Regions from separate parts of the Homo sapiens genome. Here region 2 is linked to region 1. Evidence: fine-mapped expression QTL. A gene starts in region 1. The other region holds a variant in brackets. All regions are shown on one strand. Distances are between the middles of the regions.

Evidence for each region. PIP is the estimated chance that this variant, and not a neighbour inherited with it, causes the effect.
Region 2: its variant is the best candidate, but not a certain one, in a credible set for the expression of FSIP2-AS1 in visceral fat (GTEx, PIP 0.51).

What each region holds. Positions count from the first base shown.
Region 1 is chr2:185,797,359-185,802,750 of GRCh38, forward strand. It overlaps FSIP2-AS1 (FSIP2 antisense RNA 1), which reads right to left and starts at 2,792. Exons shown (of 3, transcript NR_144453.1): 1 at 2,722-2,792. FSIP2 (fibrous sheath interacting protein 2) reads left to right here. Exons shown (of 23, transcript NM_173651.4): 16 at 1-168; 17 at 2,339-5,392.
Region 2 is chr2:185,519,356-185,524,747 of GRCh38, forward strand. No RefSeq gene overlaps it. Among named protein-coding and RNA genes, the nearest start is that of FSIP2, 220 kb to the right of the region's middle. The variant T/C (reference allele first, on the strand shown) is at 3,047.

The DNA.
Region 1 (5,392 bases):
CTTTTTTGCAAAAATTGAAAAAAAAGGAGTACCCAAAGATAGAGACTGTGAAGGAAGTTGAAGCCTTTACTTTTGCTGATCATGAAATGGGTTCCAATGAAGTTCATCTGATAGCAAGACATGTCACCACATCTGTGGTCACATATTTGAAGAACTTTGAAACTACAGGTAAGCAAGAGAGAACGTACCTAAAAATTTGCATGATTTAGGAAGAAAACCAGTAAAAGACATGTTTAAAAGATCTCCTGTCTAAAAAGCTGTATTCACTATTTTTCTGAAAATACCCTTGGAGGTAGATGACTACTGAGTTGCACTTTAATTTTATTTTAAATGTATTATTTTATTTTATTTAGAAATAGTGTCTCTGTCACTGAGGCTAGAGTACAGTGGCATGATCATTGCTTCCTGCAGCCTTGAACTCCTGGACTGAAGACATCCTCCCATCTCAGCCTTCCCCCAAAATAGCTGGGACCACAGGCATGCCACTGCACTCTAATTTTTAAAAATCTTTTTGTAGAGACAGGGTTTTGCTATGTTGCGCAGGCTGGTCTCAAACTCCTGGCCTCATGTGATCCTTCTTTCTCGGCCCCTCAAAGTGTTGGGATTACTGGCATGAGCCACTGTGCTCAGCCTCAATTGCTTTTTAATTCATCACAATGCAAAAAAATAAAAATAAATAAATGTTTTCAGGATTTGAATTTGAAGGATGTGTTGCTCAGTTTTCTCTATCTACAAATGAGAGAAAATGAGGCCATTTTAAAGCAGGAGATTTTGGTTGAGCATGAGGCATAAATTTGGAAGGGTTTTTAAAATTCTTATGCATAACTTCTTTATAATCATATGGGATGTGCAGTTAACTGATTAAAAGTCATTTAATTTTTGTATTCTTGAAGGCTTTGTTATTATTATTCAAAGTTTAAAAGAACAGTAGAATTGAATATCTTGTTTTATTTGCATTCCAGTATTCTGACTTAAATTCCTTTTAGATATAATACTCCAACTGTATCATTACAGGGATTATATTTGCATTATCTTTCTAAGTATACTCATGTGTATATATTAGGTGAAACAACATGTAATCGTCATTTTGTATATCAAAAACAGTTGATTATTGACAATTAATAAAATTCAGTTTAGTATTACTATAATACCCCAGATCTAGGTCAGTAGTTTCAGTTACCAATAATTACTTGCTACATCACCAGTCCAGATACATCACACATCATTCTAATTGGAGATATTAGCAGTCCTACCCACCTGCACGAGGAGGTTATTTTCCATCCTTAAAACCAGTATTCTCCCAAGATGGACGGTAATGTAGCTACAACTACAAACTCTTAAATAGACTTACTCCAGGCATGACTTAATTGATTTCAGAAAAATAAACAAAAGCAAAACAAGCAAGAGAAGATCCATGATTTCATCACATTGACACTTGGCTCTAACAATTCTATATTCCTATTCTCAGACATCTCCAAGGTCTTCCAGTGACTTCGCTCATGTTCCTTCTTCCACTAGGAATACCTTTTCCTCATTCCCTGTATCTTGACATGGCCAAAACCTGTGTAGCAGTCAAAGCTCAGCTTAAAGTCTTCTATCTGTGTAGAGTCTTGCCTGATAACACATGAAGATATATAATATATAATTAAGTTCTGAGGAAAAAAACTGTGTTGCTCTTGGCTGCCACACCCAGCAGTTGGCCATTGCAAATAGGTAATGATTTGTAACAAATAGAATTTTGGACAAAACAAATATAGAGTTCTTCACCTGGCTGGGCCAACCTTCCTTCTTTGTGACAAACTATAATCTAGGGACTAAAGTACTACTGCTATTGCAATCTATTACTAGCTTTTCTGGAGTTGCCACACTTTTATTTTAGTCAACTTGATATTGCAACACAACTCCTTAATGTCCTAAAAGTAAAACATAGCATAACATTAAATGTTTTGTCTAAAGCTATTTTAAAATAATTATATGGCACCTCTAGGTATCACTGGAGACATGGTAGGATGCATCGCTAAGCCTGGAAATTATTTCTCTGCCCCAAGCTTTCCAGCTTCTTAAGAGTTCATAACCATCCAACCAAGGCAGACATCAGCATTTGACTTAGAGGATTGAATTTTGGGGTGTTATTTTCTCAATTTATTGGCTAAAATTAAGATTTTGCAAGGTGAGAAAATAAATGTTTGAGGAAAATCTAATTTCTTTTTTTGTTTAGATTTTTCTTTAGTGAGTTGCTCAAAGGGTGAAATATATATGTAAATAATAATTTCAAATATATTGAATTTTCTATATTTTCTTTAATCCATGCTAAAATTACAATGTTTCCTTTTTTAAGTTTTTAGTGAGGAAAAGATGTCTGTTTCTACATGGTCAAGGAAAAAATATGAATCAAAACAGTTCCTAAGAAACATATACGATGATTCTTCAATTTATCAATGTTGTGAACATCTCACTGAGTCAGTACTTTACCATTTAACTTCGAGCATTTCTGATGGCACCAAAAAGGGTAGAGAAAAAGAGAAAGCATGGGAAATTCAAGAAGCAACATTTAGCAAGATTATTTCAATTCATTCTCAAGTGTTTGAGAGCAGGTCAATTTCCATTGGAGAACTTGCTTTATGTATTTCTGAAATCATTATTAAAATTCTTTTTAATAATAAAATTATACAGGCTGACATTGCACAGAAAATGGTTGCCATACCTACAAAATACACTTACTGTCCAGGAATAGTTTCTGGTGGCTTTGATGACCTCTTTCAGGATCTCTTAGTAGGAGTGATTCATGTACTGTCCAAAGAAATAGAAGTAGATTATCACTTTGAAAGCAATGTAAGAAACAAATCATTTTCTATGCATAGAAATAATAGTGTACCCCTTTGCAACAAAATCAATAGACAGGCAAGCCCCAGAGACTGGCAATTTTCTACTCAACAAATTGGTCAACTTTTTCAAAAAAATAAGTTAAGTTATCTTGCATGTAAGTTAAACAGCCTGGTTGGTAACCTAAAAACAAGTGAATCCAAAGAAGTAGTCAATAAAGTTTTTAATATTGTTTCAGATTTATTTTCACCAGATGAATGCCTAGATACGGGTATGGATTCTGGTAAAATACAAAGAACATATTTCTACTCCTCGAATAATGAGCAACCTAATAGCATACTTACCAATAACCTACAGCTCTCCTCAAAATCAGTTTTTCTTCTCAATGTTGTATGTGAGAAACTTATCAGAATACTTTTGGAAGAATGCACAAGCACTGCTTTTCCTGATAAAGGGTCTGTTTCAGAGGAAACATCAGCAGAAGAATGTCAACTTTTAAAAATGCTTCAAAGTGTAGAAGATGGAAAATCTGATTATCGTAAGGGAGGAATGGACTGTGAATGCCTTCAAGTAGATTACATGTCAGACCTTTTGGAGAATGTGGCAGAAATTGATCAAGACTTATTGACATCAGACTCTATGCTTACTATTATTTCCCACAGCTTGGTTAAATCATTGATGGACAAATTATCTCACAGCATACAACAAGCTCCGGAAAGTCTACCTTTTGCAAATAAGCATTTGAACTACAGAACAAGAGAAATACAGTCTAGTTTCATAAAAGCAAGAAAGTCAGAATTAATAGAATTAGGACAGAGTAAAAGTTCTTTAGAACTCAGGAGCTATGATAGTAATTCTTTGACAGTATCCCTGAATAATCCCAGTGTGGTTAGCTCCAAAATACAAGCACCATTTAACAAGCATTGTGCAGTAAAATCCTCTTCTGTGTCACCTTTTGAAAGACAGAGAACAAAGGAAATGGATAAGGTAGCCATTCATAATAAGCTACATCAGGAAGGTATATATGCTGGTGTTTATTCAGCCACATTTTTGGAAGGAATAATTTCAGAATTGTTTTTTAATCTCTCTATGTCATTGTGGGGCAAAAATAAAAACATCACTGTGTCCTGGCTCAATGAGATGAATACATTATTTGTCAACAATGTAGTGAATGAATTTAATAATGCTCAAGTCACTGTTCTACGGAATGCTGAAGAAAGGCTGTGTTTTCCACCAGTTCATACAGAAACTGTTAGCAAAATTGTTGACTCAGTTTATTATGATGTTTTACAGCAGTATGAATTAAAAGTGGCCTGTGGTAATAATCCGGTATACGACAATGCCTCAATAGCAGAACAAATAACAAATGGCATATTGTTAGAGATTTTAGACTACAAACTGCCATCTTGCTTCAAGGAACATCTCATACCCCATTCATATTACCCTCTCAAACCTGAAATTATATTGCAAAAGCTTCAAAGTAACCTAACAGAATTTACTTCTCTACCCAGGTCTTCATCAGACTATAGTACCATGTTATCACATTCATTTTTAGAAGATGTCATAAGAAGGCTTTTATCTCAGCTAATTCCTCCACCCATTACATGTTCCTCTTTAGGAAAAAAATATTTAATGAGTTCTGATTTTAATGAAATGTCCACTTGTATAATAAATAAGGTTATGTCAGCCATTTCAAAACATAAAATCTGGTTCACTATATATGATAATCAATATCTATATACTGGAAAAAACCTCCAAAAGATGGTGGATTCTGTATATTGTAATATTTTGCAAATGTCTGACTCTCTTGTTTCAATACAAAAAAGTATAGTAAGCCGAAGCCCAATTATGATTGACCAAATAGCCAGCTTTATCATCCAAGAGATTATCGAAAATCATCTTCAACCATTTTTGAGTGGAGAGGTTTTATGTCATCCAAGGACTCCACTGGATCCAGTGTCTACTATTGTTACACAGGTTCTGAGTGAAGTGATAGAGTCACACAGACCTCAGAAGCAATCACCTTTAGATATTCACCTTGATTCATTTGTAAGGGAGATTGTTGCCAGACTTTTGTCAAAGATTTTCAGCCCAAAGCATAACACTGAAATTGAGTTGAAAAACATGACCCAAAGAATAGTAAACTCCATAAATAGGCATTTCAATAAAGCTAAAATTCACATTCTCTATGATGACAAAGAACAGGCTTTCTTTTCTTTCAATACAGATATTGTGGATGAACTTGCCACCTCAGTTTATAGAAATGCTTTAAAGCAGCATGGGCTAGACCTTGCTGTTGATAAAGAGTCTGAAGACAGTGGCATTTTTGTGGAAAATATTACCAATTTAATTGTAGCAGCTATTTCAGATTACCTTCTTCATCCACTGTTTTCTGGGGATTTTTCAGCTTCTACCTATTCTAATTCAGTGGCTGAGAATATTGTTCAGGACATCCTTAGTAACATCAGTAAATCTACTGAGCCAAGCCAGAGTGTACCTCTATATAACACCTTGCTGCCATACACATTTTTAGAAGATATGATCAGAGTACTATTATCTAAATTATTTT
Region 2 (5,392 bases), 280 kb before region 1:
CCTGTCCCCTGGGGTTCCATTTGACCAAACAAGACCTGCTTAAATGTGAGGGGAACTGGTATGCACCGGTCATTTCTAAACATTGGTGCAAAAACCACAATAACCTTTGCATCAATCTTATACTAAATTTTTAAATGAATGTTTGATTCTCCAAGTGCTTTCCCTCAGTACAAGTTTGATGTACATGAGAACACTTACCTTTAAAGCCAGCTGTAAATGTTGAAGCGGAAAAATGTAAAAAGTTTGGAAACTCAAAGCAGACCTTGGAGAAAAACTATGTGGTAATGCAGAATAACTATTTTGATCTTTTACCTAGAAAACAATTTCTATTACATTTGATCCATTATACATTGTGAAGGGTGTTTTTATTATTGACTCAAGCACTTAGTGAAATGGTAAGTAATAAAGTCATAGTTACTACAGAAAAAGTGATTAAATCTAGAATAATACAAAAGCTAAAAGCAGAAAAATTTTGACTGAATGAAGTGATACATGCTAACAAAGTCTAGAACTATTTTTAAATCTAATTTGGGTAGGAAGTATAGAATGAAGGAAAAAAAGAATTTATGACCATAAGAATTTTTTTGATTAAATGGTGACAATTTTTTAACAAATAGTTGAGAATATCCAGATATGTAGTAAGATATATTAAAATAAAACTCAGGACTAGAAAAAGAAATTTTAGATTCATCAGTATAGGTATTTTTTTGACAACCATAAGTTTCAGGTGACCAAACTGTCTATTGCAAGAATTTTGAAAATTAAACATTAGAAAAATATAAAATATAATGGAGGAACAAAATGAGAAGATTAGAAAGGATAAAGACCAAATTAGAATCAACTAAGTCAATAATCTCAACAAATGGTAACTGCAATAAGTAAGAATAGAAAGGTAGACAAATGTGTACAAGAGTTCAGTGCCCTAAGCACAAATCTAGGGTAAAAATCATACAGTTTACATATTTCTAAGTAAGATTTCACATTTCACCCCTAATTTCAATTTCAATATATTTTATGATTTTATTACTCTAAACAAGGAAACAAAATATATGGGGAGACAGAATATGGAGAGGATGGCCTAGGTTAATTCCTCATGCATAAAGGAGATGTAAAAGGGAGTATGATTCTAGTTATAGCTGAGTTCTCTTTCATGATGCAAAAGAGAATTTCAATAGAGATATAGGTACACTAGTTATTAACTCTACACTATTTGTGAAATGTTAAGAAAATATTATATACTCACATTTTCAAGGTGATAGCAGGCGAAAGTTTTTAAAAATCCTGTTCTGGTCAAACAGGAAGAGAATCAGGAAATAATTTGTCATATATATGTAAATATATATATTCATGAGCCTCCATATGTAAATGCAAATGATAATGACTATTAAAGAAATAACAAAACAAACATATATGTCAGAAGTAAATGGCTAGATAAGTTATGTCTTAAGTATTCTGCAACTATTCTGTTTCTACCTACAACCTAATGGGGTAACTTGGCTTTCCTATACCTTTTTTTCTTTTCTAATTATATGAATTCAACAAGCTAAACCAGTTGGCTCAGACACTTTTCATAGGAGAATTTGATGATTTATAGACTGCTATTGAAACCTGTCTAGAACTCTGATGTTTCTCCAGAGTTGGATAAATGTGTTCCAGAAAATAAAATTCTAGCAAATCCACTCATTTTTGTCAAAGACAAATATAAGCTGTTCAATTCCCATCAATATAAAGACTATTCATAAAAGGTATTTAAAAATTCAGCCCTGAAACCCAATAAATGAACTTCTGTTTATGATCTTCAATTTCAAGAGGTCTTTATCTGACCAGCATTATGTAGATTGAGGATGTGAGTTTTCAGTACTGACTGTGATATTTTAAACAAGGTTTATTGTCAGCTCTTCTCCCTCTTTCACCATAGCCCTCCCAATATGTCATATAATCAATAAAATCTCTCTCCAATGTGGTCATGTCTCCCCGACCGTTGCCCATTCAATTTTTCCTTCATACTCCCACACACATATCTTTCTCCCCTTCATTTACTGTGTTCTTTATTAAGACTATCATCTCACCCTGAGATCTCAAATCTCTATAATCTCTCCTTCTTCCATTTTGTCTTCTCTGCTTCCAAAAAAAGAAAGTTTTTCTTTTTAAGTTTGAATAATTTATCCCTTCTTTACTTTTCTCAAAAATTTTAATTAGCTCCCATCAGATATAATTTAAATGCAATGTCTCAACCTCCTGTAGAAAGTCCTCTTTCTTCCTTCTCTGTTTAACCATTACAGCTCTTCATTCTGTACACTCAGCCACATAGTGTTTGTACATGAAGAGATAGGCTTTGAGTCTGTTAGAGATCTGGAGGCAGAAGTATAATCTAGGAGGCATTAGTGCTGACTTCTTTTACATATCTCTCCATCCTCTCATCCATAATGAGTTTGCTTTGATGGGGCAGTAGAGGCTCATGGCTTAGAGAAAGTTAAAGGAGCCGTTGTTTGTTTATTCCAGTGATGGGTAAATTACCCAGAGTTTAAATGGGCAGGTCACAACAAGAAATTAGCTTCCTTCTCAATTCTAGCAGAAAAGTGTTGTGTACAGCATGGAAACTTTTATGGAAAACAACTCAAGAAAGTGTCTCACAAATATCTGTTGCATTATCATCTGTTCTGTATGACAGCATACATTCCATGTGTTCTATATCCTGCCCTAATAAACTTGAAACTTTGTAAGTGGTGTGTATGTGTATGGAGACAGTTGGGGGATTTTAGAAGGTCTTTTAAATCTATAACACTCTAATAAATTTTTAGCCCTTTACCCTTTTGTGCATTATTTCTTATGCTAATAATTCATCCCAGTAATTGTTTTGTAATTTTATAAAGTCTAAATGATAGTTTTTCTTCTAAGTACATCCCTGACCAATGTCTCCCTCATATCTCACTATATCTATCTAAACTATATGATATAGTTTGTCTGTGTCCTCACTGAAATCTCAACTTGAATTATATCTCCCAGAATTCCCATGTGTTGTGGGAAGGACCCAGGGGGACATAAC[T/C]GAATCGTGGAGGTTAGTCTTTCCCATACTATTTTCATGATAGTGAATAAGTCTCACAAGATCTGATGGTTTAGCAGGGGTTTCCACTTTTGCTTCTGCCTAATTTGCTTGCCGCCGCTATGTAAGAAGTGCCTTTTGCCTTCTGCCATGATTCTGAGACCCCCCCAACTATGTGGAACTGTAAGTCCAATTAAACCTCTTTTTTTGTTCCGTTTTGGGTATGTCTTTATTAGCAGCATTAAAATGGACTAATACAGTAAATTGGTACCAGTAGAGGGCAACCTTGCTGAAAAGATACCCGAAAATGTGGAAGTGACTTTGGAACTGGGTAACAGGCAGAAGCTGGAACAATTTGGAGGGCTCAGAAGAAGACAGGAAAATGTGGGCAAGTTTGAAACCTCTTTGGGACTTGTTGATTGGCTTTGACAAAAATGCCGATAGTGATATGAAAACGTCCAGGCTGAGGTGGTCTCAGATGGAGATGAGGAAATTTTTGGGAACTGGAGCAAAGGTGACTCTTGTCATGTTTTAGCAAAGAGACTGGTGCCATTTTGCCCCTGCCCTAGAGATTTGTGGAACTTTGAACTTGAGAGAGGTGATTTAGGGTATCTGGTGGAAGAAATTTCTAAGCAGCAAAGCATTCAAGAGGTGACTTGGATGCTGTTAAAGGCATTCAGTTTTATAAGGGAAGCAGAGACTAAAAGTTTGGAGAATTTACAGCCTGACAATGCATTAGAAAAGAAAAACCCATTTTCTAGGGGAGAAATTCAAGCCAGCTGCAGAAATTTGCATAAGTAGCAAGGAGCCTAATGTTAATCCCCAAGATCATGGGAGAATGTCTCTAGGCCATGTCAGAGAACTTCCCAGCAGGCCCTCCCATCACAGGCACAGAGGCCCAGTAGGAAAAACTGGTTTTGTTCGATGGGCCCAGGGTTCTCATGCCATGAGCAGCCTAGGGACTTGGTGCCCTTTGTCCCAGCTACTCCAGCTGTGGCTGAAAGGGGCCAATGTACGGCTTGGGCTGTGGTTTCAGAGAGTGGAAGCCCCAAGCCCTGAGAGCTTCCATGTGATGTTGAGCATGTGGGTGCTCAGAAGTCAAGAACTGAGGTTTTGGAACCTCTGCCTAGATTTCAGAAGATGTATGGAAACAACTGGATGCCCAGGCAAAAATTTGCTGCAAGGGCAGGGCCCTCATGGAGAACCTCTGCTAGGGCAGTGTGGAAGGGAAATGTGGGATTGGAGCCCCCACACTGCATCTTACTGGGGAGGAGAGGGTCCCCTCATCTGAGAAGAGAGGGCAACCATCCTCCAGACCCCAGAATGGTAGATCCACCAACAGCTTGCACTGTGCACCCAGAAAAGCCACAGACACTCAATGCCAACCTGTGAAAGCAGACAGGAGGGAGGCTGTACCCTGCAAAGTCATAGGTTGGAGCTGCTAGAGACCATGGGAACCCACCTCTTGCATCAGTGTGACCTTGATGTGAGATCTGGAGTCAGAGGAGATCATTTTGGAGCTTTAAAATTTGACTGCCTTGTGGCCTGGTGCAGTGGCTTATGCCTGTAATCCCAGCAACTTGAGACGCCAAGGCAGGCAGATCATGAAGTCAGGAGATCGAGACCATTCTGGCTAACACGGTGAAACCCCGTCTCTACTAAAAATACAAAAAATTAGCCAGGCATGGTGGCAGGCGCCTGTAGTCCCAGCTACTCGGGAGGTGGAGGCAGGAAAATGGCATGAACCAGGGATGCAGAGCTTGCAGTGAGCCAAGATCACGCCACTGCACTCCAGCCTGGGTGACAGAGCAAGACTCCATCTCAAAAAAAAAAAAAAGAAAAAAAGAAAAAAAGAAAAAAATTGACTGCCCTGCTGGATTTTGGACTTTCATGGGCCCTGTAACCCCTTTGTTTTGGCCAATTTCTCCCATTTGGAATGGATATATTTACCCAATACCTGTACCCCCATTGTATCTAGGAAGTAACTACTAGCTTGCTTTCGTTTTACAGGCTCATAGGTGGAAGGACTGGCCTTGACTCAGATGAGACTTTGGACTGTGGACTTTTGGGTTAATGCTGAAATGAGTTAAGACTATGGGGAACTGTTGAGAAGGCATGATCGGTTTTGCAATGTGAGGACATGAGATTTGCAGGGCCCAGGGGCAGAATGATATGGTTTGACTGGAACCCACCAAAATCTCACTTGAATTGTATCTCCCAGAATTCCCAAGTGTTGTGGGAGGGACCCAGGGGGAGGTGGTTGAATCATGGGGCCAGTCTTTCCTGTGCTCTTCTCATGATAGTGAATAAATCTCACGAGGTCTGATGGGTTTTTCAGGGCTTTCTGCT